Regions from separate parts of the Homo sapiens genome. Here region 2 is linked to region 1. A link means that fine-mapping ties the variant in region 1 to the expression of a gene that starts in the linked region. Tissue or cell type: prefrontal cortex. Region 1 holds a variant in brackets; the other region holds the start of a gene. All regions are shown on one strand. Distances are from middle to middle.

Region 1 (16,626 bases):
GATGGAAAAAAATCTCATTTTCCCACTTGACATTTTAAAAGGTGATTCAAATAAATATAAATCTTAATAAATATTTTTAATTTTTTTTTTTTACAAAATCTGTGACTCAATTTCTTCTTCTTCTTCTTTTTTTTTTTTTTTTCCAGTTGGAGTCTCACTCTGTAGCCCAAGCTGCAGTGCAGTGGTGCGATCTTGGCTCACTGCAACTTTCACCTCTGGGGCTCAAGCGACTTTCCTGCCTCAGCCTCCCAAGTAGCTGAGACTACAGGTGCATGCCACCACACCCAGTTCATTGTTTTGTATTTTTAGTAGAGACGGGATTTCATCATGTTACCCTGGGTGGTCTGGAACTACTGAGCTCAGGCGATCCACCCACCTCAGCCTCCCAAAGTACTGTGATTACAGGTGTGAGCCACCACACCCGGCCTCTTCTTATTTTTACAGGAAAAAAAAATCCAGATGTGGGAGCCTCTGTCTATGTTGCTTGGAATATATTGCAGTACAGTAGTGGCTATGATAGCCTTTTAATAGATTTTTACACCATGATCGAGCCCGTACACACACACGGAAAAGTTTAGGAGACCATGCATCATTATGTGCATTGCATTGAAATATTTTTTTTTCCAGTTCCTTCCTTCTTTTCTTCTTCCTCAGTGCTTGCTTGTAGAGGCTCAGTACATTAATTTCATGAGCCAAATGGGTCCTAATCCAAAATTTGAAAAACCCTGCTAAGAGAATGACGCTGCAGCTACTGTAGCCTATTAACCAGCAAGAAGGTCCTGGGCCCCTGACATGACGGTCTGGTGTAATCTTGACTGGACCAGGAATACTTAGTTCATGTGGGGAAGGGACAGGAAATGAAAGCTTTGGTAACTTCAGAAGCTCAACCCATCATTGAATTGCTACTGACCCAGGAATGGATCTTTATTGAGGTTGTCAGTTGGTCGCTAGACTCCCTGGAAAGGCTCAAGGTAGAAATGAACTGTTTCAAACCAAGCAAGGCTGAAAAATAGGCCTTTAAAATCCAGACAACATGGGTCCTGAGACAGCTAGTGTCTGCGTGGCTTTTCCCGGCCCCCATGTCCACCCTATCTGATGTTGACAATCCCGCAGTTTCACTGCCACCGTCATCGACAAATCTTTGCCTTGTTTGCATGAAGTTTGGAAATTAGTCCTTATTTTACTTCAGAAAAACCACATCAGCGCATGGAGATGGTTCGTCTTGCACTGAGGCTCTCACGAGCCTTACTGCCTGCGAAGACTCTGACTCCAGAAGCGGTTCTCCATCCGTAATGGAAAGTCGACATAGAGGCCAGGGGAGGCGAGGCAGGGCTGGAGCCATGGACCTCACCTTTGAGGACCAAGAATGTCTTTCAGTGAGGAGAGGGGCCCACTCACACAGCCTGCCTGCCAAATCGCAGAACTCTGTAGGACACAGGTGTGAACATGAGAGTACTTTTCTAAACTCTTGACTGCTGTGCTCCCCCTTTTGATCAAGAGTCAAAAGAAAAACAATTTGCTATGTTTTGCATCTTCTATGACTGGGCAAAGTACATGGAGGTTGACATGAACAGTGTCATGTTTAGGTCCCTGAGAACTGAGACCAGAACAAACAAAGGCTTTTAGCTTTCGTGAGAGCCCTATCCAGTGTTCATTTTAATAACAGCGATCTCAGAAGTAAACTGTCACTTTATAAAAGCGATTGTCCATCATTCGGTTACCTGGGGCTCATCCAGACCCAAAGGCTTTGGGATGGCCAAAGCCAGAAGCACCCCCCGGTCCTGTGTGGTCACCATGGCTGAGGCCAAAACAAAAAGGTCATCAGCTTCTATTTCTCATCTAGGCATCGGTCTTCTGAACTTTATTTATTGAATTTACTAGACATCCAGATGAACAATAAAACTCTCTTTTACATTTGAAAGGTCAAATCAAGATTAAGTGAGTTAGAGGAGCATTAAAGAATATCCCTGCAACTGCTCACGAAGTACTGGTGTTGTTTAGGGTTTGTTCTCTGTGCATGGAGACTCAGCTGGTCACACAGGAAACTTTGTATATTCTTAAGTCAATGCATTCATTAAAAATAACGAAGCTATTATCTATTTCCATCATGCTCTGATTGTACTTTACAGTATTACATTGCCACTCCTAATTTCTCTTGTCTTAGGGCTTTAATATGTGAGCCTCTCCTCTGAGGGTAAAACCTCCAGCAGAGGAGGGAGACGGCTTTGCTGTCTCTCACTCCCCCAGTGTATAGCACTGGGCTGTCCACAGACCAGCTTCCAGGATATGTTCAATAGGTTTATAAATGTCTTCAAAAGGAAGGGGTTGTATATTCCTAACTCCTTCACAAACTATTTGAATCTCTTCATCCGATATCACGTAAATTTCTAGAACCTAAATAAAATGAATGCTCAAGGAAATAGTAGCTCTCAGTGCTTACTTTCTGGGGAACATCAGCTTTTATGAATGAATGCACCTCGAAAACCAAAACTCCAGCACAGAAATGGCCTCTGCAAGCTCAAGACTGTTAGATGCCAGTCCACCGAGGTTGAAATATTGGCAAACATTAACGGCAATATTAATTTAGCAATGAGAATAGAAGAAAGCCAATCGGCCAATTCGCTTGGCCAGGCCCTTCATTTCCACTCATTATGCTGAGGAGCTGTCAGAGCCCGGGACCAAGGGGCTGTGGATGTCCAGCCATCTTCTCCTCTTGCCCTTAGCGTTTCCTCATAACTCACTCCCAGGAAGCCAGCGCACATTTATTTACCAGGCTCCTTGGGACACCATATGCAGTCACTCCTGGACTCCTGTTCATGGCAACAAGAAGGGCCCCAGCAAATCAGAAAGCTGCTCACCCACGCTGCACGGGGCTTGCTGATGTCCCAAGTTCCTCTCTTGAGGCTCCGCGGTTCTCATGTTGGGGCTGACCCTCTCACACTCGCCATCCCTGGGGCCAGGCCCCAGCTTCCCCCATTCAAGCATCAACTCCAGGCAGGCGAAGGACACCCGGCTCCCAGCAATCCTGGTGCTGCGGTATTTAGTCCCTCCCTTCTCCTTGGCCTTGATCATTGCCTTGGCCACCCTGTACGTTGGGTGACCCCATCTGTCTAACACAATCTCGCCAGTGCCTTCTGATTAGATCTCAGCTTCCTCACATGACTTGGGGCTCCAGGGTTTGGGAGGCGCTGGGCTTTCCCTTGGTTTTCACATTACACAGTGACTGATGAGAAATTCCCTGCTCCAATCTAAGAATCCCAGTCCCAATGCCCACGGGAGGAGGGAGGAGCATAGCCCCATCACCCAGTGGGCTGCTACTAGTGAGTAAGGCATTTAGGCATAGACAGTGCCTTTAAAGACTGAATGTTGGGGTTTGAAGGAGCCAGTCAACCCATGGGAACACCTGTCCCCTGAAACAAGGAGGGGAACACGTTTATAAACAGGTTTTCAGCACCCATTCCAGTTGAACATGGGAACACCTGGTATATCCGAGGCTGGCTCTATAACACCTGGTACATCTGAGGCTGGCTCTGTAGCACCCAACACTACCAAAGCTAAAAGTCCGTCTTCTTCAAAGGAGCAGGGATAAGAATTAGGTCAGCTCGTGCAAAAGCTTTGCAAAGCTCAGTGATTGCGAATGACCATGTTCTGAGCATCAGCACACAAGACAAAAAGGTTTAGAAAACATTCTGGTGTCTCTACGTCCTTAGAGACCAGCACTCCATCGGGATTCTTTTGGGGGAAGATTTTATCATGGAAGTTGGGGAGCACATTATTGACTTGACAGCAGATTAAGGCTATGAAGAAAATGTGCTAAAATAAACAAATTTGTGCCCTGCAGTAATGGTGAAATTGCCGGTAATCGCTAAGTAAAAACCACTGAAGAACAGGACAGAAGCCAATGACCACCTCACCTCCACCGAGTGCCCTGCAGGTAATGACATACCCAAAACCAAGAGAGGGAACAGCTTTGATTGATGGACACAAAAGGAAGTCACAACAAATATGTGTGAATATAAAACCTAGGAAGATCTTTCTTTCTTAGACAAAGAAAGATGATTAACCCGGGAGCCCTGTCCTGTGTGTTATTTGAAGAGGCTTTTGTTAAATCCCCAAGGCAGCTTTGTGGACTCCTCAGCACACCACACTTAGGAAATAGGAGAGCGGGGTGGTGAGGAGCTGTGTGATCTCCTGGGAATCCCTCCTTCTTGGGCTGGGATCCCCTCATTCGCCAAAGGGGGATGCCACAACCTTACAACCTGAGAGGGGCTTCAGGGCACCCTCTGGCTTTTACCTGTGAGAAAGGATATTGTACGTTTTCAAAGGCCAGAACTTATCCTACTCCAAAAGCTGTCTCGCATGAAAAAGTGTGAAAATTTGCACAACCAACAACAAGGGATAGCACATTTAATCCACACAAGGTGGGGTGTGGCCCGGGCCCAAAGTGCCATTCAGCATCAGATCTGGAGCATGTTTCGGGACGGACCCATGGCTGGCACCCATCATGCCAGGGAAACGTAAGCCATTGAAGCTAAAGTGTTATGGGTCTAAGTATCAAGATGTTTGGCATTGTGTGTACAAAAACATCGATAATTGGGATGTACGTTTCCGTTTTCATTCAAAATATTATCAGTGGGCCCAGGTGTACTCTATGACCTTAAGAAATTATCTCATTTCCTAACTTTCATTTTCATATATTTCCTTCTTAGCTTACTAACTTTAAAAGATGCCCATTCTCTCCGTCAATCACTGTAACCTGTAGGCAACTTAGGAATTTTTTCAGCTTCTTGAGACTCTGGGGCCACCAGGGATGAAACCATTTGCACTTTTATTGGTTCACATAATGGCATTGGGAGGGGAGACAGGGAATACCTGTGAAGTCACAGAAGTATTTAACCTGTGCTCCTAGTATGACTGTATTAAACATAATAGTAATACGTATGTATTTTCAAAACCTTAAGATGATGCTCTCTGCTGTTTGCTATTTATTGTTATTATTTTTTGAGACGGAGTCTCACTCTGTCGCCAGGCTGGAGTACAGTGGTGCGATCTCACTGCAACCTCTGCCTCCCAGGTTCAAGTGATTCCCCCGCCTCAGCCTCCTGAGCAGCTGGGATTACAGGAGCGCCAGCACGCCTGGCTCATTTGTTTGCCGTTTTAAAGCTTACCACATTCACTTATTTTTCACTGATGTTTATACTTAGCGATGAGGAAGAAAGCTCAGGTGACTTGGCTTCCTCAGGGGAAGGTCTTCACGGAAGGTTTCCAGAAGACACCTGTCGGTGAGATGCCAGCTGCTCAAGACCCTGCAGAAAGCCCTGTCCCAAAACCCCCTGGAGTGCCCAGTGCTGGTGGGAAGGTCACGGGGGCGTGTTTTCCCAGAGAGACAATAACTTGAGACTCACTGTTGAAGTCACCCGTACCCACTCCATTAGAATGCAGAACCCGCCCCATTAGAATGCAGAACCCGCCCCATTAGAATGCAGAACCCCCCCGCCCCCACCCCCCACCCCGGCAGCTCTTTCTGCTCAGGGTAAGGCTGAAACTGATGGGCAGACAGCCAGGAAGCGTTCTGAGCTTTGGGTTCAAAAATGAGATTCAGGGCATGCGATGGGGTCCAGGTGGCAAAGGACCCCTCCCACACGCCCGGGTCACTCCTAGCATCGTGCTGGCAGCACCGACCCACCAGCCCCTCCTCCTCCTCGATCTCCCCGCCTTGGCCTGCCTCTCTCCATCTCATACACAACACACAAACCACACATACACACCCCACACACACACAGACTCACACACCACACACACCACATATGCACACACACATTCACACAGACACACACAATCACACACCACACAGACACACACATTTCACACACACACTCATACCACACATACCACACACAGTGTATATGCGTGCACACACACACACTGCTGCACACACCACACATACCACATATGCACACACACCCATTCACAGAGACACATACACACAGACACACACACACCACACAGACACATACACACCATGCACAAACACACAACACATACATATACTACGAAGACACACACACAGAGACACACCACACACACAGTACACATGCACATTACACAGACACATAAACACACACCACACATAGAACACACAGTGACACACCACATACACTTACACAGACACACCACACATGTGCACAGACACACACACATTCACACACACAGACACACACACTGCAGGTGTCCTTCACACTAAGCCTCCCTGTGTTCACTGAATGTCGGGTGGGAGGAATGCATCGAGCAGGGAGAGGGTCCCTTGACGAGGGTGGCTCTGGGTTGTGTCGCGCCCAACACCTGCAGGTCTCTCCCTTTCTTTCCTCTTCCAAGGTAACCAGCGTGTTGTTTTGTCTCTTTCCCCTACACGGCCAGACATGGCTTGCAGAGCAGGGGCTGTTCCATGAACCCCTGACTCTTCCTCACACTGATCTGTGTGTGTGCATCTGCACATGTGTGTGAATGTGTGTCGCATGTGTACACTGTTGTGTGTACACGGGCGCTTGTACGTGTGCCTGTGTGCGTGCATGCATGTGAGCCTGTGTACCAAGTCTCCCGTGCAGATGCCTGAGGTTAGTGGCTGAGTACGTGGAACTTGGAGCTCTTACAAGTACTTTGAATATGAAAAGACAAATTCGTGCAATAGAGGAGCATGAGTCCTTTGCAGCTCCCTAACCGTCCATTTCATGTCAATGCTGATGTTCGTGACTGTGCGGTGCGTTGACAGAATGACAGAGTCGGTGCCTCCCCGCACTGTGGTCCCGCAGCACGATTTTATTCAGCGTGCACACATGTGGGCTGCCGGAGTCTTTAGAGTAAACAGGAGCTCACGGAGACCTGGCTGCTCCCAGGAGCACTCGAGACAGCCTCCCATGACATAATATCGTTACCGTGGCAACAGGGATATTCACTACCAGAATCACAACTATATTTCACCAATTTAGTGCTCTACTAAACACAAAATAATGCCTTCTTTAATGATGCTGGGCTGTGGTTCTTAGAAACACGGAGCCCCCTGGAGCGGGAGCCCAACTGCAGAATAAAAGTGCAGAAGGAAGGCCCCACTTGTGTGGAGAGGCGCTGCGGTCTCCCGGCATGAGAAGCTGGCACGGTTATGTGTCATGGTTCTCCATAAGAACTTTTGCAGCAAATGGCACCCACACGCCTTGGTGGCAACTCTTCCAGCCTGGGATGAGATCGGCAGAGCCTGGGTCTGAGAACTGCAGCCAGCGACTCGCTGGGCTGTTCCATGTTCCAGGCAGCTCCGAATCATCTTTTTTTTCTTGAGACAGAGTTTCTCTCTTGTTATTCAGGCTGGAGTGCAGTGGTGCCATCTCAGCTCACCACAACCTCTGCCTCCCGGGTTCAAGCGATTCTCCTGCCTCAAGCCTCCCAAGTAGCTGGGATTACAGGCATGCACCACCACGCCCGGCTAATTTTGTATTTTTAGTAGAGACGGGTTTCTCCATGTTGGTCAGGCTGGTCTCGAACTCTCGACCTCAGGTGATCCACCTGCCTTGGCCTCCCAAAGTGCTGGGATTACAGGCATGAACCACTGTGCCAGACCCGAATCATCGTTTCTGCACATGGAGAAAACCACGTGGAGAAAACCGGCAGGAGAAGAGCATGGGGCAGGGTCTGTAGGAAATGCTCAGAGAGCTTCCTGGAGGCAGGGCTGGGGAAGGCACAGGGGAGCCCGGCTTCTGCGGACGTTTCCTCCCAGGATGAGGGAGGCAGGGCTGCTGGAAGACTCACCTTTCCTCTCACTGCACTGCCATTTGTCCCAACTCATTTCCGTTCTATGTTGATTGGTTCAGAAAACATCCTATTTGGCAAATCCTAAATAGTCTCACTTTCTGTCATGGTCGTGGAATCTCTCCGTCTCGACAATGGAACCGAATTGTAAAGCGACTCTAGCTCTGAATTCCTACCTCTTGCCTTTTG[T/G]TTTTTTCCTAGAAAAAGGAAATGGAAATCCTTCCTGTTATTCTCCGCGTCCCTTCGTAGAAGGCTGCCTGAGAGGTCAGCACAGGAGTCCTCTAAGTGCCCTGCAGAGAACACGGGTCTCGGAGCCGGACAAACCTAAATTTTGAAACCCACTTTGAGTTTGAACTTGGCTGTGGGAAAGTTACACAATCGCTCTAAGCCTCTGTTTTCTCATCAGTAAAACAGAGAGGGGTTGCTTGTGTGAGAAGTGGCCGCTGCCAATCATCTGCGTGTCCTTCACTCTCCCAGGGGCCATGGGTCTGTATTCTACACATGTGGGATCTTCCTCTGGACCCTTCGGACATGGTCCACACGCTGCCCTCAGGATCTGCTGGGGTCTGCATGGGGGGTGAGACGTGAACCCCAACCACGTTCACCACAGAGAGGAAACTGGGGGGATGGAGGGGGGGACAAGGCCAGGTCACCTTCAGGTGCCGCCCGCCAGCAAGGCGGTTTGCACCCGGCTGAATGAGCTTTAAAAAAGACAGTTTTTTCTGTAGTTTAGAATCATGGTTTCACTAAATGGTGAAATAATTTTATGCCACTTCCCCTACTAATTACCATCTCATTGTTATTAGAAAGGATGGTTTCCTTGAAGTCTAGAAAATTTTGTTCCAGTCCATTTCAACGGTGCAGGAGAAACGTGGCTTCCATTCCGAGGAAGACGGCGACACCTAGTGACCGTTCCCTCGCGGTGCGATGGCCTCACACCTGTGCGGCGGGTCGTCCGGGGCGTAGGGTGCTGCGGCCTTGCGGTCTTCCCTGCGCTGCAAGGCAGGGCATGGTGGCAGATTAACACCTGGATGAACACGGGCAGGTCAGGAGACAAATAAAACCCAGAGGTCTTTGAAACTTCAAAATCCCGTAGGGTGTGTGACCCCAGTGAGCCCCACGCTACATCCAGCGAGAACCGAGAAGTGATGGTGCAGACATTCTTGGGTCCCCCAGACAGAACACACCGGGAGTTACTGCCTCTTTCTCATCCCGAGTCCTCCTGACTTTCCCCAGCACCCATCGTGGCTGCAGCCAGGACACAGGTAAATGTAATTTCCCTCCCCTTCCATCCTCGCTTTCACATCGGTGTGATTGACTGAGGGCCTGCAGACTCTCTCCACGTGCGGGTGCCCTGCAGCCTGACACACAAATGCGTTCATCCTTCCCCTTTATCCTGACCCCGAACTAATGACGCAGCTTCCTGAGACACAGAGGATGCTTCTCCTCGTCCCCCCTCGCGCTCTGAAGTGGGAAAAGATGTGTTCCATCTGTTCTGGAATTTTCACTGTAAAGAAGAGAATGAATTTTAACTGTGTTTTTGACATATCCCTAAACAAGAAGTGGTTTATAGAGTGAAACCATTTTCCCTTCATCTAAAATTTAAAAAAAAAAAAAAAGAGAGAGAAAAGTGCAAGACTGAAGATGTGTGTTGAGCGGGGTGAGGAAGCGTGGGGGACTCGGCGCTGGAGGAGCCCCGGGTGTGTTTAGGGTTTGTGGTCAGGGGCCCTGGGCACCAGGTCCAGTCTGAAGCACCCGGGGGGATGGACGATGTTTGTGTAAGAGAGGGACAAAGGGATGGCAGGGTGGCCAAGCAGAGACGCGATTCCCTCTGTGCCCTTCCTGGACCAGCTTTGTATTCTAACAGCAACGTCTCTGTTCTTGGGAAGAGCTCCTCGGTGATTACCTGCCCGCCCCTTGTCTCCTCTTATTCCCGCTGCCACAGGGCAGGGCCGCCCAGCTCCAGCTCAGACACACACCTGCTCCAACTGCTGTGCTGGTCACAGGCCCAGAGCACCACGTGTCCTCTGGGGTCTGTGTGGTCGGCGCCGTGCGTGGGACCACTGTGAGTGACCCTCCTCTTGTGTCACAGAGCCACTGTACCCGTGTGCACCTGTGCTCTGAGACCTGGATACCCCTGGAAGGACAGACACCGAGGACCCGAGTGCACTGGAGTCCCGCTCCCACAGATCCTGCTGCTGGGAGAACTGTCAGCCAGGAACGGGACTGCGGTGGGGAATTCCTTCTGTCAACACACTTTCTAATCTAAGCTCCAGACTCCACTTCCAGACTAGCACAGGCTTTTTCCCCCACATCTCCTTCTCTGCAGCCGGGGCTCCTGCCGGGTCTGCGGAGCCCAGAGCCATGCTCTCTGCCGACTCCATCTCCAGATGCCTGCCCCGGCACCCACGCTGTTGCCAGGACACCAGTGAACCCAGACAGGGTGAGCAGGTTGCAGCAGGGTACCGGGAGGAATGCCCGGCTGGCCCATGTCTTGAAATCAGTCTCATTGAACAATCCGGGAAAGAGATGACCTAGCCTATTCTAAGGCTATCGATGTGAATTGGATTCTTCCATTTCCCCTGAATTCTCTGATTAAAATGATAATTATGCAATAGCTGTTTTCCATTTTAAAAGCTGAGTATGACTTCCCTACTTGGTGGAAGGCTGTCTGCCCAGAAAATGTTGCTATTTAATGCTTTCTGAAAAAGCGTTATCTGTATTGTATGCATAGAATCCACTTGTTGCCACAATGCCCCCTCCTAAAAATTATCGCTCGGGCAGAGACGCAGCTGGCTGGATCTGGTTCTGCCCCCACCTGGTCCCTGGGTCCCCTCTGAGGCCTGCGTCACCTGCTCTGCGCAGACTTCTGCCACCTCTGGATGGAGGCCATAGCCATCATTGCACAGAAGTGCACCTGCGCGCAGTGGAGTGACTAACGCCCGGCTAAAATGTCCAGGAGGCGGGGGCCAGTGGCCTGGGCAGACCCGCACTGGCTGGCCGCACCTGCCTGGTTTGTCATCACTGGTTTGTGAATAGGCTGGAAATGCAGAGAAAATCCAGACACTACACCAACAGGAAAACGAAGTCTCCTCAGCCTCCCATCACACAGCCACCCACAGTGCCAGGACGGGCTTGAGGTGTTTCTCCTGCTGCTTTAAAATAGATATAGATAGATGTCAGGCCGTTCCATTCGTAGCCATAGCTCACCCCTGGGTCTGGCTGTCGAAAACCTGTTTCACTATGGAGAAATGGGGCAAAAATACAAGTTATACATAGTCATTTTCAAGCGCACATTATATATATTCTGAAACATCAATAGGATTTCCACCCAGTTCAGGACACTTACCTTAAATGTACTTCAGCCTGCAGCCTGGGTAGTGTCATTTTGTGAAAAGGATGATATGCTATAAATAACTGTCCGTCAGACCTAGAAGTGGGATGGCTCATGAATAATGCATGAGCTGTGCACAGCAGCGCTGCCCTTTGAATCAGAGAACATGTTTTTCCCTATCTCCAGAGGGAGAAAGCCCTCTTCCAGCCCCTTTTTAAATTCTTCACTTGGAATGAACCTGACTCCTTCTTGGAAAATCCAACCCCAAATCAACACTCAAGTCCTTGTGTTTTCTTCTCCCCACTTTGAACAAAGGGTGGCTGTGGGTTTGAGGGTCTGAGTCTCTCCTCTTTGCCAAGGCTGCACAGCTGTAGCCCCCACTCCATCCACCTCCAGGCGCCCGAATCCATGCCAACAATTGAAGAACACGCGAGTGACCCTGCTACCGCAGGAGTGTGTTGCAGCCAGGGCTGATGGGGAGCAAATGCAATAACCCTATCTCTGCCGGACTTGCACCTGCTGCCGTCCAGCTTGGTCAGGCAACTCCCACGCAGGAGCCGGGTGACAGGCCTGGAGGGTGGCCTTGCTGGGCCTGGACACCAGCACACGCTCGAGGCAGAGCAGCAGGTCAACCTGCCATTGCCAAAGGCCTGTTGCTCTCCTGCTCCGCCAGCCAAGGCCTGGAAGGGAAGGAAGGAAGAAACAGGGCCCGAGTGCCCTGGCTGGGATAATACCAGGACAAAGGAAGGGGACGGAGAACGGCCTCTGCCTCTGGAAGGGAAAGTGATGGGGTCAGGAAGGAGGAGATGGTCCCAGAGCCAGATTGGAACCCGCCAATGCCAGGAACCAGCAAATAATTGTTGAACAAATGAATGAATGAGTTGATTGTTCTAAAACTTTTGATAGTCTTGGAATGGGGACAGTCCAAAGCTATAGGGTCTCATGGGATCATTCATTCTTTCATCACACGGCTGTGGAGGACGAGGCTCTGTGCCTCTCATCTAGTGGTGGATTTAGAGGAGTTATGAGTCACAAATGGGGCATCCGTTTACGATCTTCTATGGCCCATTAAGGGATTCCCATTCACCACTTAAGCCGCAGGACAGGGATATCGCGTTCCTTTTCATTCTCCGATCACTCACTCACCCACCGAGAACTGTGCTGAGCCCACCCCGTGCTCACAGGACGTGGGGCCCACAGTGAAGGGACGGGGAGGTGAAGTCAGGGAAAGAGGAAAAAGACGGATCCATTAGACACAGGACGTGGCACGGGATTGTTTAGGAAACTGCCATCTTCCTGAAAATATATATTGTCTTTTGATGACTCCCTTCTTAGGGACAAGTCAAATTAACTGAAGAAACTTCTTTTCCCCTTCCCCAAATTTTTGTTGCTACCGTGCAGATATGGATTTAGATGATAAATATCATATATAAAGAGGCCACGAGACTTCTGCTCACTTCCTATCTGCCGTGTCCCTGGCCCTGTGCAAATAAAACCTCTGGCGTCTGCATCTACCTCAGAGCCTGCTGCTGCCACCATTGAGAGATGGAGAAGCAGGAGAGTGTCTGGGGAGTCAGGCGAACCCCAAAGACAACCCACAGACTCTATTCACACAGGAGCTCGAGTGTGGGGAGGCCAGCAAGCCGCCTCCCTGGCCACAAAATCTCAGTCATGAAGGTAAAGGCCAACTACATTTTAATGCAATATGTTTTTAAAAACCAAAGTTAGTACAAAAACCCATGACAGACAAAATATCACAATTTTAAAGACAGAATTGCTGATACTGGATTTTTTTTTTATCCTATGTCTCCAATATGGCTCAGCACGGCACCGGGCCATTGTGTCTAATCTCGATATTAACTTGGCGTGATTTTTTTTCTTTTTTTTTTTTTCACTCTGTCGCCCAGGCTGGAGTGCAATGGCGTGGTCTTGGCTCACTGCAACCCCCACCTCCCAGGTTCACGACATTCTCCTGTCTCAGCCTCCCAAGTAGCTGGGACTACAGGTGCCCGCCACCACGTCCGGCTAATTTTTTTGTATTTTTAATAGAGATGGGGTTTCACTGTGTTAGCCAGGATGGTCTCGAACTCCTGACCTTGTGATCCACCTGCCTCGGCCTCCCAAAGTGCTGGGATTACGGGCGTGAGCCACCGTGCCCGACCAACTTGGCGTGATTTTCTTTGCATTCACGTGGATGTTTTAGGAGAGCCGCGGCACCCTCTGCCCCTCACTGTCCTCATCATCCACCAGTTCTCCACTCGGTGCCAGGTCCCCAGCTGGCATGCGTGACACCACTGCAACATGCTCAGTGGCCCCTGAACCTCCTCCAGGAGACGCCCACACTGGGTTGTAACTCCCTATGCAACATCGGCTTCCACCACTCGACGGTCGGCACAGAACCTGGTCCTCAACCACCCCTGAATACATAAACGATCCTATGAATCAATCCATCCATGAATCAATCCCCCAAGCGTGATCATCCAGACGGGATGCAAAAGATCCCGGTCCTGTTCTCCTTTCCCTTCCGCTTAATACCTTCGGCTTCCTCCTTTTCATACTCCAGCCTCCTGCCTCCTGACCCACACACACCCCACCCCTAAGCCAGCAAAGCCAACGGGTCCAGGGGTGACCTGCCGGTGAAGAGCGACAGAGCAGAGGCACCTCCTAGGGACTGGGGCTCAGACGACCTGGCTCTGGGTAAGACGTTACTCTAAACACGTTTCATGGTTTGTGTTTCTGCTTATATAAAATAGTCATCGGTAGGATTGCCAAGAGCCCAGTTACATTGAATTTTAGATAAATAATAAATAATATTTTAGTATAAGTATATCCCAAATATTGCATGGGATATACTTATAGCACAAAAAAAATCATGTGTGATTTATCTGAGATTCACATTTAACTGGGTAACCTGTATTTTTATTTGCTAAGTCTGGCAGCTCCATCACTGATGTGCCGTTTTAAAACTTCAGACATCACTTTGGCAACAGCATGGTGACCTCATCTCAACCCCCAGCTGTGCCTTCGAGTCTTATTCAAAACGGCATCTTTTTAAACTCCTGGAAGGACCAAGTCTCATGATTTTTTAATACATGATATTTGTCATCTAAATCCATATTTGTGCAGTAGCCACAAAAATTGGAGGAAGATCACAGCTGTAATCCCAGCACTTTGGGAGGCCAAGGCAGGTAGATCACAAGGTCAGGAGTTTGAGACCAGCCTGGCCAACATGATGAAACCTAGTCTCTACTAAAAATACAGAAATTAGCCAGGCGTGGTGGCAGGTGCCTGTAATCCCAGCTACTCTGGGGGCTGAGGCAGGAGAATCGCTTGAACCAGGGAGTTGGTGGTTGCAGTGAGCCGAGATCGCACCACTGTGCTCCAGCCTGGAGACAGAGCAAGACTCCATCTCAAAAAAAAAAAAAAAAAATGGAGGCAGAAGAAAAGAGGTTCCTTCAGTTCACTCGGCTTGTCTCCAATAAATGTGTCATTAAAAACAACCTAAGTTTTCAGGAAGACTGGGATTTCCTAAACAATTCTATGCCACGTCCCATGTCTTACGGATCCGTCTTTTTCCTCTTCCCCTGACTTTACTTCCCCCATCCCTTAACTGTGGCCCTGACCTCCTATGGGGCACCGGATGTAATCACAGCAGTTCTCAGTGGGTGAGTGAGTAATCAGAGAATGAAAAGGAAGGTGATACCCCTGCCCTGTGGCTAAAGTCATAAATAGGAATCCCTTAATGAGCCACATAAGATCATACAGAGATGTCCCATCAACAAAAGTCCTAGAATGATAATAATAATAAAGTCTTGAAAGATGTATTTTGGGGTAGGATATTAAACACAGAAGGAAATTAACCTGACACCAGGCATGTCAGCCTCGGTTCCCAGACCCTCCAGCACACACATCAGGAGACCCAGGTACAGGCTCATCTGTCTGAGTGACTTTCCAGCCCTGTGCTTGGCCCCTTGTCTGGTTCTGTCCATTGTCTGCCTTCTCTTCCTAAGCCATCCATGCACGTCCTAGACAGACACAATGACGGAGCCAAGGACTCTGTGAACGAGGACAGGACATGTTAGCAAAGTCCTCAGCTGCCTGACACTGTGGTGAGCCCATGGGAGGAAAACCATTGGGCCCCAACCCTAAGGGCCAGTCGTCACTGGGCCACAGAAAGGCACACAGACAGCCATCAGTGGGGCTCCAGGTGCCTGATGAGGAAAGACAGCAACATCTCATGCTTAGGGCATTCCCAGCTCAATGAAATAAAGGCAATATTTTATTTAGCAAAAATTGTCACTATTTGTTGGAATGAGAGTCCCTCCTCAAGGCTCACAAACTGTCTCCAGGAGGATTTGTGCCATGGACTACAGCAGGGAGATTGTTTTATCATTATGATTATGAAGTCCTACCCGGCAAAGTCTGAAAATTTTGGTAGAGAAAGCATAAACCTTCTGTGTCTGTGAAGGAAAATTGTTATTGCTACTGAATATATGAATGCAAAATGCCATAATACAAAGATTTTTAATGCATTTCTGTCATATAGAGGGAGAGTAGAAGCTGCTTGAGTTTATTTAAATATTGTTGACAGAAAACTGCTGTCTTTAGGAGCCTAGCCATGGATTAAGATTCATATATATACACATATATACATGCAAATTAAAATGTTGAAAAAGAGACACTTATCAACATAACCTTTAGAAAACCAAGAGAATCTTGTAGCCTGAGAGCATATTCACAGGAGAAAAGGGAAATTCATGAACACCTCATTTTACTTCCTCCCGTAGGAGCTGGGAGATGGGAACATCACTAGACCACGAGCCGGAATTGCTGCAGGAGGATTCCCACACTCTGGGCCTCCGTGGGCACCACGAGGACTGGACGTGCGACCCCAGCTCTCTGGGTCTCAGTTTCGTCTCCTGCAGAGCATCTGAGCTAGACCGTCTCTAAAATTTCATCAAGCTCCTGTATTCCATTCTATTCTGAGATGCCCAATTCTTATGCCTGCTAAAAACCACAGTGAGAAATAATAACCTATGTCCACATTTTTGTTTCCTAGGAGAAATATCAACATGCGTCTGCCAAATAAAATATTGTATTAAATGAGTTATTTCAAAAAGTATTCTTTGACCACCTCAACATGTGTTAAAAGGAATGCCACATGTTAAAAGGAATGCCTCATGTTACACGGAGTCCTTCTAGGGTAAGAAAGAGAGGTCATCTGTGAGACAATGTCTGCTTTTGAAACTCTCCACATAACCATGGCCAGCACTGACCCCTGTTGGAGTAAGATACAGGGAAGAGGCAGCCAGGCAAGCTGGAAGAATGGAAAAAGAAAAAGAGAGTCTAAGAGACAGGAAATTTGATACCAAATCCAGGAAATTTGATACCAAATCCAGGAGCGCTGCATCCTCTATACCAAACCCAGGAGCCCTGAATCCCTCTACACCAAATCCAGGAGCCCTGAATCCCTCTATACGAAATCCAGGAGCCCT
Region 2 (16,626 bases), 20 kb before region 1:
GTTATCAGGGATGTGAGGTGACATGAACTGACGGGTAATTCAGGAATACCAATCTGTCCTGAGAAATAACACCCAGCTCAGGAATTTGGACCGGAAATCTATTACCCCACCTTACCAAATTGCCTTTGAAGTATATATGTTTCATTTTATTTTTTGAAACAGAATCTCACTCTGTCGCCCAGGCTGGAGTGCAGTGGCACGATCTCAGCTCACTGCAACCTCCTCCTCCCGGGTTCAAGCAATTCTCCTTTCCTAGCCTCCTGAGTAGCTGGGACTACAGGCGCACACTGCCATGACCGGCTAATTTTTTGTATTTTAGTAGAGACATGGTTTCGCCGTGTTGCCCAGGCTGGTCGCAAATCCTGAGCTCAGGCAATCTGCCTGCTTTGGCCTACCAAAGTGCCGGGATTACAGGCGTGAGCCACCATGCCTGGCCTTGAAGTATATTTTAATACAACAAAAATGTTTCTACTTTTACAAAACGTCAGGATCCAAAGTTTAAGCCCTCACCTTAAATAAGGGAAGGAAAGCCTTCGAGTCACAGGATCTCAAGATCAGCCAGGTGGCATGCAGGCACAGAGTGTTATTGAGATAAAAGAGATTGAACAGAAGTAAAGAGAGCAGTTACGTGAGTGGACCACCCGCCCGGAGAGGGAGGCCAAGGAGGCCAAGGGAGGGAGGCCTGAGAGCCGCAGAGGAAAGTGGAGGAGACTTCAGTGTCACCCACAGGACTCAGGCTCTCTTTTCAGGAACTTTTAACTGATCAGCTTTTATGCAGATAAATGAGGCCATCTTTCCTGTCCACCCCACCACCACCACCACCACCACAACCAAAAGCATTTCCACTACACTCTCCACATATACATGGTATCAAAAATCCCATTTATTCACTTTTATAACAATATACATGAACAAAAAGACACATTTTAGAACCTAATGGCTTAGGACATCAAGACCTTTTTTTTATTATTTTTCCTAGAGTGAAAAGTATTTATATATTCATGATACTGGAAATGTATTTATTGAGTATACATTTTAAGAAGAAACCACACTTAGACAACCACTGATTGCTTAATTATATTTATAGAACAATCTAAATGACACAAGCTTTGGAAATTTAAAAATAATAACATAACTTGGAAAAATCAGGAGAGAGAGGAAGAAGAAAATGAAGAATGAGTCCATTTGCTAAGTTCCTCATATCTCATACAACAGTAGATAAAGTTGATAAATTTCAAAATGTTATTTTAAGTGAATTATTTAAATTCACAAAGTAACCCCTGGATGAATAAAAGAAAAATAAGAAAGCTATTAAAAAGCAAGAGACTTGGATGGTGCGGTGGCTCAGTCCTGTTGTCCTGGCGCATAAGGACGGGAGGCCAGACGTTTGAGACCAGCCTGGGCAACATAGGAAGCCTTCATCTATACAACAACAACAAAAGAACAAGAGGTTTGCTTAGCACCTGGTAGGTAAGTCTACTGGATTATTAATTCTTCTAAACGAGCATCAGCAGACACCAAGTAAGGCTGGGCAATCGAGAAGCAGACACAGAAATTGTTAAAAGTGTTTTTTCCAGGGCATGAGACTAGGAATCATGGGAGGCTTTTCATCAGAGAAACTTCTAAATGATATAAGTGTTGGAAGTTTAAACACAGTCACATAACTGAGAAAAATCAGGAGATACAGAGGGGCAGAAAAGCATCAGGTTTAAAAGATTATCCCATACACATGTGTTAGTCCTGTGATATAAAGAAATACAGACATAAATAATTATGGTATATTAGTAATAATACTTGTGGCCAGACACAGTGGCTCACATCGGTAATCTCAGCACTTTGGGAGACCAAGACAGGCAGATTGCTTGAGTTCAGGAGTTCGTAACCAGCCTGGGCAACTGGCGAGACCCACCCACCCCGCTGCCTCCATCTCTACAAAAAATACAAAATATTAGCTGGGTGTGGTGCCACATGCCTGTGGTCCCAGCTACTTGGGAGGCTGAGGTGGGAGGATTGCTTGAGCTCCGGGAGTTGATTGAGGCTGCAGTGAGCTATGGTCCTGCCACCGCACTTCATCCTGGGTGAAAGAATGAGTCCCTGTCTGAAAAATAAAAGTAAATTAAATAAAATTAAAATTAAATTAAAAGTATGAATAGAGAAAAGTGTTCAAGATATATTTTATTGATAATTTTTTACTGTGGTAAAATATGTACTTCATAAGATGTGCTAAGTTAACCATTTTTAAGTGGACAATTCAGAGGTATGACATCCATTCACATTGTGCGACCGTGACTACCATCCCTCCACAGAACTCTGCATCTTCCCAAACTGAAACCCTGTGTCCACTAAATAAAACTCCCCATTCCTCCATTCCCTCCCCCTGGCAACACCATTCATTCTACTTTCTGTCTCTGTGATTTTGACTGCCCTAAGCACCTCCTCTAACTAGAACCATAAGTCAGTGCACTTCTGAGACTGGCTTGTTTCTCTTAGCAAAATGTCCCCAAGGTCGTCCGTGTGGCAGCATGTGCCAGAATTTCCTTCCTCTTTAAGGCTGCATAATATTGTATAGTATGGATAGACCACATTTTGTTTATCCATTCATCTCTTGGTGGACAAGTGCATCTTTATACTCAGATAAACACACAGAATGCAATGAGTGTTTCCATGGGGACACAGGTCAACTCACAGTGTCCAGTGGCAACTCAGAAGCCATCTGGTCTACCGTCTCTGCAGCAGCCCTCGTCTGACCATCTGACCCTTCATTTGCTACCCCTCCCACATTGTCACCCCTGAAATGTTCATGGACTTGCTGGCCTACCTTCAATGGCCACCCCCACTGCCACCCCTCAGGTATGAGTCACAGGGGCACTTCTTTGTTCACCGCAGCCCCAGTAATGACAGCTGTTCATGGCATGCAGTAGGAATTTGATAAATACTGTTGAGTGCATGAATGAATACTTGCGATGGTTACACTGGGACCAAAAAAAAAAAATCAAGAAACGGAATGAAATGGATGATGACTTTTCACTTTTAATTCTATGAAGTTTGATTTTTGAAATCTATACCAAGTATTATATTCTAATTTGAAAAGTTTAAAAATAATGACCTGGAAGTAAATAACCCCTAATCCGAAAGGTGAGCTGTAGTCGGTAGGGTCTTCCATGTACTCAGGCTCACAAAGGAGAGAGATGGTGGCTTAAGGAGTCCCCAGCTGTGCCCCCAAATCTCCTCTCAAAAATATGTGTAGCCCAGGCTGCACCCAGCCCTGAAACCAGCCCAAGGCTCTCCTTTCCTCTGCTGTCAGAAGGAGGGACGCCTAGGGTCAGGAGGGGCTTGCTGTGGCACCTCCCACACACCCCCATGGCCAGCTGACCCCAGTGCGCTGAGGCTTTCAGGACTTTGCTGAGTGTGTGACCACGGGCAGCTGCGAATGACCCTGCGGAGGGGATGGTGCCAGCCGTGTGGCCGGCAAGCAGCAGGCTGTGGTGGCAGGTAGGAACTTCCTTCTGCTCAGGGAATTGCTGCTGGTATCAACACAGCCCGAAAGAAATATGCTGTATGTCATTAACTTAGGTCTGTTTCAATTACATTCCATCAGAAAACTGACTCTGCCTTTTTGTGGAGAACTTGACTTTACGGGTTGGCTCTGCTGGGAACAGGTTTGTAGAGGAAGGGCTGAAACACGAAACAAAGAGAAGGTTCTGAGAAAGGCCAGGACGATATCCTGTTGTTGTTCAGTGATTCCCTAAACAGAACACTTTGTGAGGGCCCTGCTGGAGGCCCAGGGTGGCTGTTCCTAACAATACCAGCAGCCAGAGGAAGCTGTTAGATGAGTGGGTCAGGAGGAGGCGGTGGCACTGCCCAGGAGTCATTTCTGGGTCGTGTGTGGTGGCCACAATTTGCAAAACAGGAAGGAGAAGAAGAAAAAATGATTGGCAAGTGGCAAAAGGAAGGCAAAAGTCGCACTCTGCTCCCTGAAAGGCAGCAGAATTAAATGGCCAGCAGGACCAAGCAACATCCATGTGGTGAAGGAACCAACCTGAAAGACAAACAGAAAGAAACGCTGGCAGGTGGGGAGTTAGGGGAGTCCGTGAAGGGCATGGCACTCACCAGGAACCAGCGCAACGCCCCCTGCAGCCTGATCTTCCTGGCACCGAAGCACACGGCCTGGGAGCTTGTGGAAGACACAACATTCCGATTCAGTAGCTCCTGAGAGTCTGTGTTTCCAACAAACTCTCACTGCTGCCGGCCTGGGGACCACACTTAGAGACTAAGAATTGCGTTTGCTGCTTCTCCCACCTTCCGCACGGTGGGTCCACCCAGGGAGCTTTAACAACTGCCAATGCTGGGGCCCCAGCTTCTCCACTTGTGATCTAACCGGTCTGGGGTATGGGCTGGGCTTCAGAATGTTTTAAAGCTCCCCAGGTGACACTAATGCTCAGCAGTTTGAGAAGCACTGATGTGGATGAAACGATAATAAGTAACCAGTGGCAATGTGGAGAATTTCAGCCAAGCAATACCCTCATAGACTCCTAAAAAGCCTGAATCCTGGATAAACTTTCAAATCACAGAAGCACATCTTTGTGTTTCTTCTTCATTGGAACAGGTGATAACTGTGCAAATAAAACCAGTTGCCTCCCAAACTGCTCTGAGTCTAAAATAGGACCAAAGAGAAAGAAGTTTTCAGAAAACAAGATGGCCAGTGCATCAGGAGTGAGTTCATCTGGACAGGAAGAGAAACTCACAGTGTCTCCTCTCCTAGGGTGTCCATCATCAGCTCCACCTCTTCCTGAGGCCACCTCCACCTCACCACTTACGTCAGCTCTTCCAGTTCCTGAGCTCAGCTGAACTACCTAATTCGGGGATCTTGAATATCAGCTAGAATTTTGCTGGGTTGAATGTAACAAACAGGAAAAATCCATGACTTATAGGAGATTGAAGGGTATCTCCCCCACACAGCTACGAGACTGGAGGTGGTAGGGCTGGGCTGGGGTGATGGCTTCCCGGGCATCAGGGTCCCAGACTCCTTCATTTCATCTCACTCACTGCTCTGCCTCATGGTAAAAAATGGCTGCCCAGGTGCCAGCCAGCACTTCCGCACAGCAGCCAGGAGGACGAGCAGGGGGCAGCTTTTACGCTCTCCTTTAAGGCAGTCCTGTCCATTGGTCAGAATTTAGTCCTGTGCCCTTCCTAGCTGTGAGGAGGATTGCAAAGTGTTGTACTTGCCAAGACAGAAGTCCCAAGCTACAAAGTTGGAGAAAGAAGAATTCATACTACAAAGAATCCAGTAGTCTTCAACAAGTCCTCTTTTACTTACCCTATTTGACTTCCTACATCTCTTCTCTAACCAGTAATTCACACGAGCCAGGTACTATGCCAAGCCCTTCATACCCACTGTTGCGTTTAGTCCTCATGCAACCTCATGAGGGAAAATTTTCAGAATCCAAATGGAGTTCCCTGTGTTAAAACCCTGACACGCTGGGGAAGGCCATGGAGGGAGGGCTCTCATGAGTGAGGCATTGCAACTTTTCACAAAAAACCACTTCTGCCAGGACATCTGCCAGCAACTGCCTGTCCAGCCTCAGACAGGCATCACCCTTGTTATTGATCCTTGTGGCCCAGGATAATTATCTCAAAACAATTCTGCAATCCTCATTTTCTTAAAAAAAATTATCTCTTTTTACTTCTCTGGATAAGCAATTAGTTTACCATGGCACACACATGCCCATCTTAATGCCTACGCCCGAATAAACACCATTGTCCTTTAGATAGTTTCCTTCTTTGTTATTTAGGTTGACAGAGGTCAGCTTCATTTAGACAACTTGCCAAGGTTACCCAGCTTAGTTTAGGTAACTTGCCAAGGTTACCCAGCTAGCAGCTGATGTAATTAAGGTTTGAACCCTGGTATGTCTCACTCCAAAGCTATTAACAACTCCGACGTTTCCGGCATGGGTTTGATAAACAGACCCAGAACCTCACAGTAGAGGCTTCTAAGCCAATTCATTCATAAGTGCCTGAGCCCCGCCCCTGGAGAAGCCAGATCTGCACATCACAACTGTGGGCTCCTGCACTGCAAAGGCTACCGACTGTACTTTAGTTTTGCTTTGCCTCTTCCTCCTCTTCCTTCTCCTTCTTCTAAGAAAATATTCCAGGAGCTTCCAGAGTTGTGTGGTGCAGCAAAGCTCTAACTTCTCTCCTGAACTTTGATTTCTTATAAGCTTAATAGAGCCGGGTATTCAAGTCATAGCGCCTTGGCTAAAGAAGCATTACTGAATTGTTCCCATTGGCTTGTGAAATTCTTTATATAAAATATGAGCTTGTTTCCTTATTCCTTGTCTCCATAAACAGAAGTCAGTGAGCCCACACCAACATCCCTTTAATGATTTCAGATGATCCAGTACCTTGCCTTGTCATTCCCAATATAAATCTCATCAACCTTTAAATTACATGTGGAGCGGGAGTCTACACCATAAACACCAACCTGGGGAAATACATTCGACATGATTTCTTACAGCAGCCCCTAACACGACCTGTTTTCCCTGAGGTTGAGCTCTGCTTCCTAAATATGCAACAAGCAGGCAAAAATCAGGCTAATGGATCATTCTGATCCGTTGAGTTATGGTTTATTTGAAGAAATGTTCATTTCCTCAGGTCCCTTAGAGCACATACGAGTTTCACACTTGCTGAAGGTGAGTTTCTCGACATCACTAGTCCTGTGGCTTCCCATGCAGCCAGTGCAAAGGGAAATGTGCAAGAGAGACGCCTTCTTCCAAGTGCTGCTCTTCGCTTTAGACGATTAAAAATCATCTCTCGATAGCCCCTCCACTGCAGAGCATTTTCATACACGTCTTTCCGTCTGCAAACTTTTGTTGGAGAAAAAAAAAAATCTACCTAAGCCAGTCTCCAGGTATTGTGTCTACAGCTGGGTGCATCTGATAAGGAATAAACTTGAGTTATCACCAGGGGCTCTGGAGTCAGCATCTAAGAAATGACATTTGGAGAGAAGATGAAGGATCCCCTGAGCGGACATCCAATGATGGTTATGATAAGGTCCAGGAGCCTCTGTGTGCAGAAATGTTTATGTAAAATCAGATCAAATAAAAGGTCTCTCCCTGGTCCCTCAGCCAAATCATCTTTCACTTAGTGTAGTTAAACAAATATTGCTCCGGCTATATCAGATTTAACCTTTTTAAATGTGCACTGTGAGTTTGTCCAACCTTTGTTTAAAAAGAATAGCACTTTTGAGTTCAGGCCTCTCTGAGGAGTTTTGCTTTCCTGCCAATCTTTAGGAGAGACCTCCGTCCCCTTGTTTAGGTTTGGATGGAGAACCAGGAAGACAGACATAGGTCACTTTACCAGGCTGCCTGAAAAACACCCACAGCACTGAAATAACTCTCACCAAGAGAGACACCAGCGGGGCGGGCTCTAATTTGGAATTGAACCAAAACAAGCCAAAAGGGACCTCAAGAACCATCTGGCCAAGAGCATGGGGTTCGAGGTGGACTTGGCTTCCAGACCCGGCCCTGCTTCATGCTGAATGGGAGGGCTCACAAGACCGGAGGTCTCAGGCTCTCCAGACCCAGCTTTCCTATAGAAAATAGGGAATAGGGATGGTAAAAGTAACCGCCTCGTCTAAGTGGTTGTGAAAATTAAATAGGATCCTGTGTAGGAGGTACTTAGCATGGTGCAGGGAACTGTGTAAGCTTTTGTTAGATTTTCCCTGGCCCCAGACGGCATACGTGGTTAATTTCTGTACCAGGACTAGGAGCCGGTTCTCACTGACGGCCATTCCTCCTCAAGGGGGAGTGTCGCGGGGGCGGAGCAGACAAGGCTGACCATGTCCCCTAGTGCCCTGGGGCCTGCCTCACTTCCCACAAGCATGGCCCTCTGCAGTCTGCTCTCAGGCGCATGAGGCCTCACTGTGCCCAGACCACATCTCCAAATTCAACCCCTTCCACTGCATTCTGCTGAGCCGGAGTTTAGTCACAGAAATGCCAAGTCCCGGAGCAGTGGTGTTGCCATCCTAAAGTGGGGGTGTTGTGCTTTTTGGGTGTGCCATGCCCCTTCCTTAAGGCCTGTAGTTACACTGCTTTCAGCTACTGGGACCCCCTGGGCCAGCCGTCCACCCTCCCTCCAGGTGTCTGTTTAAATGGCATTTTCTCAGACATCCCAGTACAGATTAGAACTTGTTACACACCCGTACAGCACCTCGTGATTTTCTCTTCAACACAGCATTATGAACTTGGATGGTTTCATTTCTCTCTCTTTTTTAGAGACAAGGTCTCTAAAGAATCATCTCCGAAAACACACTCAAGGTTTGCAGGGCACAGCAAGGAAGTGTCAAAAGAAACACATTGCCGAAGCACGATAGCGCCACTCAGGTCTTTCTGGAAGGACCTAAAATGGACACGCTCTCTCTTCCCCCCTCCCAAGAGCTGATGACGCTGTTGAAAACCTAATAAGAGAGGAAAGACCCAGGTGGAAATGCTCCCTGCTTCCCCGCTCTGGGCGACCCCAGGGCTGGGGTGAGAGGGGACACACCCACCGCTTGTGTAAGAATCCCCCATGATTTCTGACACCTGGTTGCTAAAAAATCACATCATTCTGCAGGCAGTCAGTGAAGGACGCTATCTGAGCCTCTTGCTAACCCAGCTACATAGCTTGGGATCCAGTCGGTCCGTTTTGTCTTGGCTAAGAGCACAGCCATTTCGCTAGCACTCGATAACATGGGGTCTCTAGGACTCCATTAAAATCTTAGGGACTTCACACCAGGATAAAGTACACTCTCTTGTCATTTTCCATTTTCTAGGAAGACTTCTATAGTTCGATTTTTTTTTTTTTTTTGAGACAGAGTCTCATTCTGTAGCCCAGGCTCGAGTGCAGTGGCACCATCTTGGCTCACTGCAAGCTCTGCTTCTCGGGTTCATGCTATTCTCCTGCCTCAGCCTCCCAAGTAGCTGGGACTACAGGCACCCACCACCACTCCCGGCTAATTTTTTTGTATTTTTTTTTAGTAGAGACGGGGTTTCACCGTGTTAGCCAGGATGGTCTCGATCTCCTGACCTTGTGATCCGCCCACCTCGGCCTCCCAAAGTGCTGTGATTACAGGCGTGAGCCACCACGCTGGTCTATAGTTACATTTTTAAAAACACAATCGCTGAAAGCAAACATGGCCAGGAGACTTAGGGTGAATCTCCGTTAATCACTGAACGGGAAGAGCTAGCTTACAGAAGTTAGGAGCTAAAACAGAACTTGGGAGGACCACACCAACGAAAGGGACAGAGGGAGGACTATAGTCTGATGAGGATGCTGGTGTCCACGGCTCCTCTGCACGGTTGGTGTTATTTCTCACTGGTAGACTCTGATAAGCTGAAGGATGTCCTGCCCTGTGATGCCGGAAATGCCTGGAGGCTGAGAACCCCTCCAGTGTATATGTGGATGCTCAGAACAAGACGTCACCGGTTTTTCCTCGATTCCTTCCCAAGAGCTGCTATCACTGGGAGAAAAATGTACATCTTTAGGCCCAGCCCACTGGGTGCCTGCATTTTTCCAGCAGCCCTCGAGTCCTGTGGTGTTGCTAGTTATTTTAATTGAGTGACACACAAGGTGGGTATGAATGAATTTTACAGCCAATTAGGGCTAAGCATGGATTGTACAGGAAAGAGAGTCTTTTTAGTGCAAATTTATGGTCCACTCAAGACACATAACTTATGACAGGACTAGTAACCGCAGCTGAGCAGGCTTCTTTCCGGAGCCTCTTGTCCTCTAAACGGGTTTTTCTGGACACTTGCAGTAGGTAAGGAGGCTGTCGACTATGGAACTGAGCGAAGACAGGTTCGGGGCTCACCCTTACCGATCCGCTCCGCAAACCTCGGGAATCCCTCTGCCTCTCTGTTCTGTTGTTCTTACCTAAACAATAAGCTATCGGCCTCAGCTGTCTCCGGGAAACTTTGAACTCTAAGAGGGCAGGTTTTACTTGTTCTCCTCGAAATGCATTTCAGACTGGGAGTGGAGTGTGGGAGCGGGAACATTAAGTTAGAGCAGGCTGCAAACCCTCCACCTGGAAATGTGTCTGCACTGCTGTCACCAGCCTGTCTGGGTCTCGGCTCTGTCCTTCCCTTGGTGTGTCCTGGGGTAGGCGTTGAATGAGAAAACCATGGTTGCAGAGGCAACACATCCTTTCCTTGAACAGTGTGCACTTGAGGAACGAATTAAGACCCGTAAACAAGGATGAAAGCCCCCGCCCCGCAGACTTCAGCTCCTCCTCCATGAAGGACGCCGCCTGGGAGGTGAGTCCAGGCCGGGCCAGGGAGGGCCTCCTGTGGGAAGGTGCATTTTCACCTTACAGCCGGGAAGTAGACAGCTGCGTCACAGTTTCACTCATGCCGGTCTCTTCCTGTGCACATTCAATGTTAACATTATTCTGGCAAAAGCCTTGCTGCAGATAGTCTCTCCGGTCCCTCCTACATCTCTTTCCAGAAGACAGTTTAAAAGGACACATTTCATCACCTCTCAGAAGGGGTTAACATCACAGAATTCCAAGTCTGAGGGTGGAGCCCTGATCCTGAGAAGGTTTTGTTGAGTTCGGGACAGTATTTCTTTACCCATCCTTCATGAAGATAAAAAATGAGGCAAAATAGACACTAAAATGGTCTCTGACATCTCCTCATGCCACCAGACAAGGAGTAACCATGGTAACAAGAAGCCTAGAAAAATTGGGGAATGAGGAAGACCAGGAATGAGAGCTCCCCTCAGCCCTGGGGGGACCTGAGTGTCCACAGCTGAGCCTTCTCTGCTTCCCTTTTCTCTTCTGGATTCTGATGGAGGATATTTTCATCTTCCTCCCAAAATCATCAGAAAGCATAAGGACATATATAAACCGCTTTGCAAAAAGAGAGTGTATGGAATAAAAGAGAAAATGAAGAAGAGGAGAAAGGTAAGATACTCCTTACACACACACAAGACTAAAGGAATAACCTGGGCTTTGAAAAGAGCATTAAAAGTTTGTTTAATAAAATAGTCTTTGCTGCAAGAGCTTCTAAAGAGATCAGATATAAAAACCAAATCACTGGGATCTTTTCAAAGAAGGGACTCCCATCGTGCCCGTGAGGAGGTTGTCAGTTCCCCCAACAGTCCAGGAAAGATCCCCTGCGGCCCAGTGGCTCTGCTCACCCTGAGGCCATCCTGTTTGAGAGATTTGCTTCACCTGGGCTGGGAGGAAGAGGAAAGCTTTTCTGGAGAGCAAGCTCAGGAAACCCACCCTTCCCGAGTGCCTCCAAGGCCCCAGGAGCCTGGCAGTCCTGGCCTGGTCTCTCCACAGGCCGCAGCCTCCCTTGCTTTGCCCTCTTTGGTTTGAAAGTTTCTCAGTATACGTGTGGATTTCCACATAGCTTGGAGGTTTCTCATATGTCCTGTATGTATGTATGTTCCACCAAATCTGAACATTGTGTGTTTGGGGGGGGTTGTGTGTTTTCTGTTTTGTTTTGCCTTTTTTGAGATGGGGTTGTGCTCTGTTCACCCAGGCTGGAGTGCAATGGTGTGATCTCAGCTCACTGCAGCCTCAACCTCCCTGGCTCAGGTGATTCTCCCACCTCAGCTTCCTGATTAACTGGGATTACAGGTATGTGCCACAATGCCCAGCTACTTTTTTGTAGTTTTAGTAGAGACAGGGTTTTTGCTACATTGCCTTGGTTGGTCTCAAACTCCTGGACTCAAGCAATCTGCCCACCTTGGCCTCCCAAAGTGCTGAGATTACAGGTGTGAGCCACCACACCCGGTCCAAATCTGAACATTAAAGGCATGTATGTGTGTACATTAAATGTATGTCTATTCATTTGAAATGTATGCTTAATTAAATCTGAGACTGTGGACTAATCTATAAAACCAAGTCATTCAAAGTGAGGGCTAGACCCGGGATGACTGTCTACAGACAGAGCTGTATCAGACTGGGAGGACCAACAGTAGATGCTTAGGATCAAAATTCTACAGTCACATCTGTTTTAATTCCTAAAACCATTGTCAACTGGGCTTTAAAATAAGACCTACAAAATGCTATAAACTGCAATCTACTTGAGTCTATTTTAGTAGCAAGGAGAGGCACTTCAGGTTGAAGGAATGGGTTTGCTCCTCAGGATACCTCATTGAAAAGGGCATCAACTCGAAGCCAGAGGCTAAGTTGGAGGAAACAGTTCCCTGGGACTCTGGAAAGCCGCAAGCAGTAGATTCAGGCTCTCCTGGCTGTGGACTCAGCTCCCTCCCACTGTGTTCCTACCCAAGTCTCAGCTTAAGAAAACAGAAAACATTATGTTTATAAGCTTTCCTCTAAATACAAGCAAATGCATTGTGTATTTGTTTCCTGAATGGTTCAGTAAGGTCTGCACATCTAGAGATTTTTTTTTTTTTTTGAGACAGGGTCTTACTCTGTCACCCGGGCTGGAGTGCAGTGGCGCTATCTCAACTCACTGCAACCTCTGCCTCCCTGGTTCAAGTGATTCTCCTGCCTCAGCCTCCTGAGTAGCTGGGACTACAGGTGCCCATCATCATGCCCAGCTAATTTTAGTATTTTTAGTAGAGATGGGGTTTTACTGTGTTGGTCAGGCTGGTCGTGAACTCCTGACCTCAGGTGATCCACCCGCCTTGGCCTCCCAAAGTGCTGGGATTACAGGCTAGAGCCACTGCTCCTGGCCCCCGGTCATTTTTGCCACAAACATTGAGCTCAGATTTGGCTGGGCCCCGCCTCTCACAGATGAGGGAAACAGCAATTTTGCATGTCTCTGCTCTAAATTTCGTGACCACCAGAAGCTGGATGGAAGTAGACTGCACCTGGGCCTGTCTGCAAAGTCAGGTCTCTTTTGTAAATATTTTGTATCCCTTGGCTAATTACACAAAGCATTAGTCTGATCTCACAGTGTGGGAGGTCTGTGACTTTGCTGACTCTTGATGCCAGCCCATAGGCAGACTGGAACATTTCAAAATCATTTTTTAAAAGTTCGTGAGAGTAAAATATAATGAAAATTGTTCCTAAAAAACAAAACTGTAAAATAGCTGTTGACTCTTTTAAAAAATAACAGAAGTAGCTCAAGATTCTAAAAACAGCAGAGGAGATTGTTCTGTGTAACCAGCAATGAGCAGGCAGGCTGTAGTGATGATCGACATCTGTGTTTGCAAGAGCCAAAGGGTGCCGCTCTTTTACGGGTCTTGGAAATAAATCTTCGGTATGTAGATAGCTAAGAGCTGACCATTGTGTCTCCATTTCAAATTGTGTCCTTTTAATGTGGAAGAGGATTTATGAACTTTATTATCAACATGTAGCTTGTTGAAAATCAAATTTTTGTTTATTTCAGGAAAGCAGAAGTACTCAAATTATTTTATTAGACTTGATGAAAAATGGGCTGGTTGTGCTCAGAGACTTTGATTCTGATTCTAGCTCTCTAACCTTCAGCACTTCTCTGCTATTTCTCTTTTAGGTTATATTTTTAAATGAAAAAATAAGCAAAATCCTCTGCAGTGTTGAAAAAAAGTTGAAGAGCTTGGTCCATGGGTAGATTAATAGATAGGAAGATGATGGACCAACAGATGGATGAGTGGGTGGGTGGGTGAGTGGAGGGGCGGATGGGGGAATAGGTGGATGGTTGGATAGGTGGGTAGATGGGGGGATGGATTGATAGATGGATAGGTGGATGGGAGGGTAGGTGTGTGGATAAGTGGGTGGATGAGTGGAGGGGTGGATGGGGGAATAGGTGGATGGTTGGATAGGTGGGTAGGTGGGTGGATGGAATGATAGATGGATAGGTGGATGGGTGGGTAGATGTGTGGATGAGTGGGTGGATGAGTGGAGGGGCGGATGGGGGAATAGATGGATGGTTGGATAGGTGCGCAGATGGGTGGATGGATTGATAGATGGATAGGTGGATGGGTGGGTAAGTGTGTAGATGAGTGGGTGGATGAGTGGAGGGGTGGATGGGGGAATAGGTGGATGGTTGGATAGGTGGGTAGATGAGTGGATGGATTGATAGATGGATAGGTAGATGGGTGGGTAGGTGTGTGGATGAGTGGGTGGATGAGTGGAGGGGCGGATGGGGGAATAGATGGATGGTTGGATAGGTGGGTAGATGGGTGGACGGATTGATAGATGGATAGGTGGATGGGTGGGTAGATGTCTGGATGAGTGGGTGGATGAGTGGAGGGGCGGATTTACCCCTACCATTCACTCTCACTCTACAGCATGATGTTGTGTTCATAAGGAAAGAGACCAGCAACTCTTAAATGAGAAGTTACAAGTCTTCCATATCAGGTGAATCCCAAATGTTAAAGCGATTTTCCCAAATTATCAACTGATACAAATATGAAATCAGATCACAAACTCTCCTTAAAATAACTTTAAAAGAAAAGAATACACTACAGGTATTGTTAACCAAGTTGTCATTCATGTGAAAATATTTTTTGGCTGAAAGATCATGGTGCATGTAAAAGCATCATTACCTTAGGTTCACTATTTTAGACACTACTATTTTTAATAAAGGTTGATAAACATTCTTACTGTGATGGGAAAATTTGTTCAGTCATATGTACATTTTGGTTAAACCTCTCTTAATCTATCGGCTAAGATTTCCAAGTGCAGAATGACTGAGCTCAGCCTGAGGAGCGGTGAGGGTACTTTCAGTGGAAATGCACAGAAAAACTGTTTTTGAAGGAAGATTTTGAGGACAGAATTCCAACAATAATGTTGAATATAAGAAAGGTCTAAATTTATTTAGCACAAATAGAATTGTACACATTAAAAAATTTGCATTTTTCAAGATAATTTTCAGACTTTGCAAACAACTATATTTTAAAAGTGAGTAACACCAAATCAGACTAATGAAGAGATGTAATTGGGCTACATAGATGGAGATTTCCAATATACAAGAGAGGAAGGGGGAAGGTTGGTGATAGACCACTCTTTTCTATGTCTTTCACTATTTTCCATATTTCTTTCTTTAAATACACTGCACAGGAGTATAGAAAAAAGTGAAAATACAGGTTGACAAACAGGAGTTCATTATTTAGAAGAAACATAAGATTTAAACTCTGGTAGTTCATTACCATCAATGTAGTTTGTATGCCCAGGAGACATAACATGTAGGGATTTGAAGTGATATATTTTGTGAGCTTTTGTAGCTATCTGTAAAAATAGAATTTCAGAGTTTATACACATTTAAACTTGAACGAAACAAGGATTTAACTATTATTATTAAAGATGAGATCTAACTCCCAAGTGGAACTTAGAAACACAAACCGTTGGCAACTCCAGCGTTGTGCAGGTGACTTCCGTGCAGTGGGGATTGCATATGCTGGGCGACGCAAGGGAAACTGCACTGTTCCTGCAGTGTGTGCTGTGCTGTAGATGTGGGAATCTGCACTGTTCCTGCAGTGGGTGCTGCACTGTAGATGTGGGAATCTGCACTGTCCCTCAGTGGGTGCTGTGCTGTAGATGAGGGAATCTGCGCTGTTCCTGCAGTGGGTGCCGTACTGTAGATGTGGGAATCTGCACTGTTCCTGCAGTGGGTGCCGTACTGTAGATGTGGGAATCTGTGCTGTTCCTGCAGTGGGTGCTGTGCTGTAGATGTGGGAATCTGCACTGTCCCTCAGTGGGTGCTGTGCTGTAGATGAGGGAATCTGCGCTGTTCCTGCAGTGGGTGCCGTACTGTAGATGTGGGAATCTGTACTGTTCCTGCAGTGGGTGCCGTACTGTAGATGTGGGAATCTGTGCTGTTCCTGCAGTGGGTGCTGTGCTGTAGATGTGGGAATCTGCACTGTCCCTCAGTGGGTGCTGTGCTGTAGATGAGGGAATCTGCGCTGTTCCTGCAGTGGGTGCCGTACTGTAGATGTGGGAATCTGCACTGTTCCTGCAGTGGGTGCCGTACTGTAGATGTGGGAATCTGTGCTGTTCCTGCAGTGGGTGCTGTGCTGTAGATGTGGGAATCTGCGCTGTTCCTGCAGTGGGTGCCGTACTGTAGATGTGGGAATCTGTGCTGTTCCTGCAGTGGGTGCCGTGCTGTAGATGAGGGAATCTGCGCTGTTCCTGCAGTGGGTGCTGAGCTGTAGATGTGGGAATCTGCACTGTTCCTGCAGTGTGTGCTGTTCTGTAGATGTGGGAATCTGCGCTCTTCCTGCAGTGGGTGCTGAGCTGTAGATGTGGGAATCTGCGCTGTTCCTGCAGTGGGTGCTGCACTGTAGATGTGGGAATCTGCGCTCTTCCTGCAGTGGGTGCTGCACTGTAGATGTGGGAAACTGTGCTGTTCCTGCAGTGGGTGCTGTGCTGTAGATGTGGGAATCTGCACTGTTCCTGCAGTGGGTGGTGTGCTGTAGATGCCTTCTTCCCTGGAAAGTGTGGTGTGAACTGCAGGTGCTGATGGCCCATGGACAGAGGGACCAGACTCCATTATCTGAAAATCTCTAAAAGAAGGAAAAAAATGTTTACATTCCCAAACTTCAGAAACCATTTTGGTTGGTGGCATCATTTCTCAGTCGATTTTGTATCCGGCAGAACCAGATTGAAGTTCATCCCAGCTCTCAGCCAGATCCTCCTGCTTCAGATTAAGCGGAGCTGGGAAAGGACGATCCATGTCCAGCCCTCCCCAGGAG

Which allele goes with the higher level. Alleles are on the strand shown, and positions count from the first base shown. SD is a standard deviation of normalised expression in the study named.
As copies of G replace T in region 1, the expression in prefrontal cortex of the gene that starts at base 10,561 in region 2 goes down (moderate effect, 0.51 SD a copy in BrainSeq).

The links.
Region 2: it holds the start of LINC02668, and the variant in region 1 is fine-mapped to the expression of LINC02668 in prefrontal cortex (BrainSeq, PIP 0.95).

What each region holds. Positions count from the first base shown.
Region 1 is chr10:3,231,875-3,248,500 of GRCh38, reverse strand. It overlaps LINC02668 (long intergenic non-protein coding RNA 2668), which reads left to right. Exons shown (of 3, transcript NR_187504.1): 3 at 15,919-16,237. Among named protein-coding and RNA genes, the nearest start is that of LINC02668, 17 kb to the left of the region's middle. RefSeq lists an enhancer at 11,193-11,692. The variant T/G (reference allele first, on the strand shown) is at 7,987.
Region 2 is chr10:3,251,454-3,268,079 of GRCh38, reverse strand. LINC02668 (long intergenic non-protein coding RNA 2668) reads left to right here and starts at 10,561. Exons shown (of 3, transcript NR_187504.1): 1 at 10,561-10,936; 2 at 11,523-11,620. It overlaps LOC105376353 (mucin-5AC-like), which reads right to left. Exons shown (of 3, transcript NR_164119.1): 3 at 14,726-16,437. RefSeq lists a silencer at 5,067-5,232.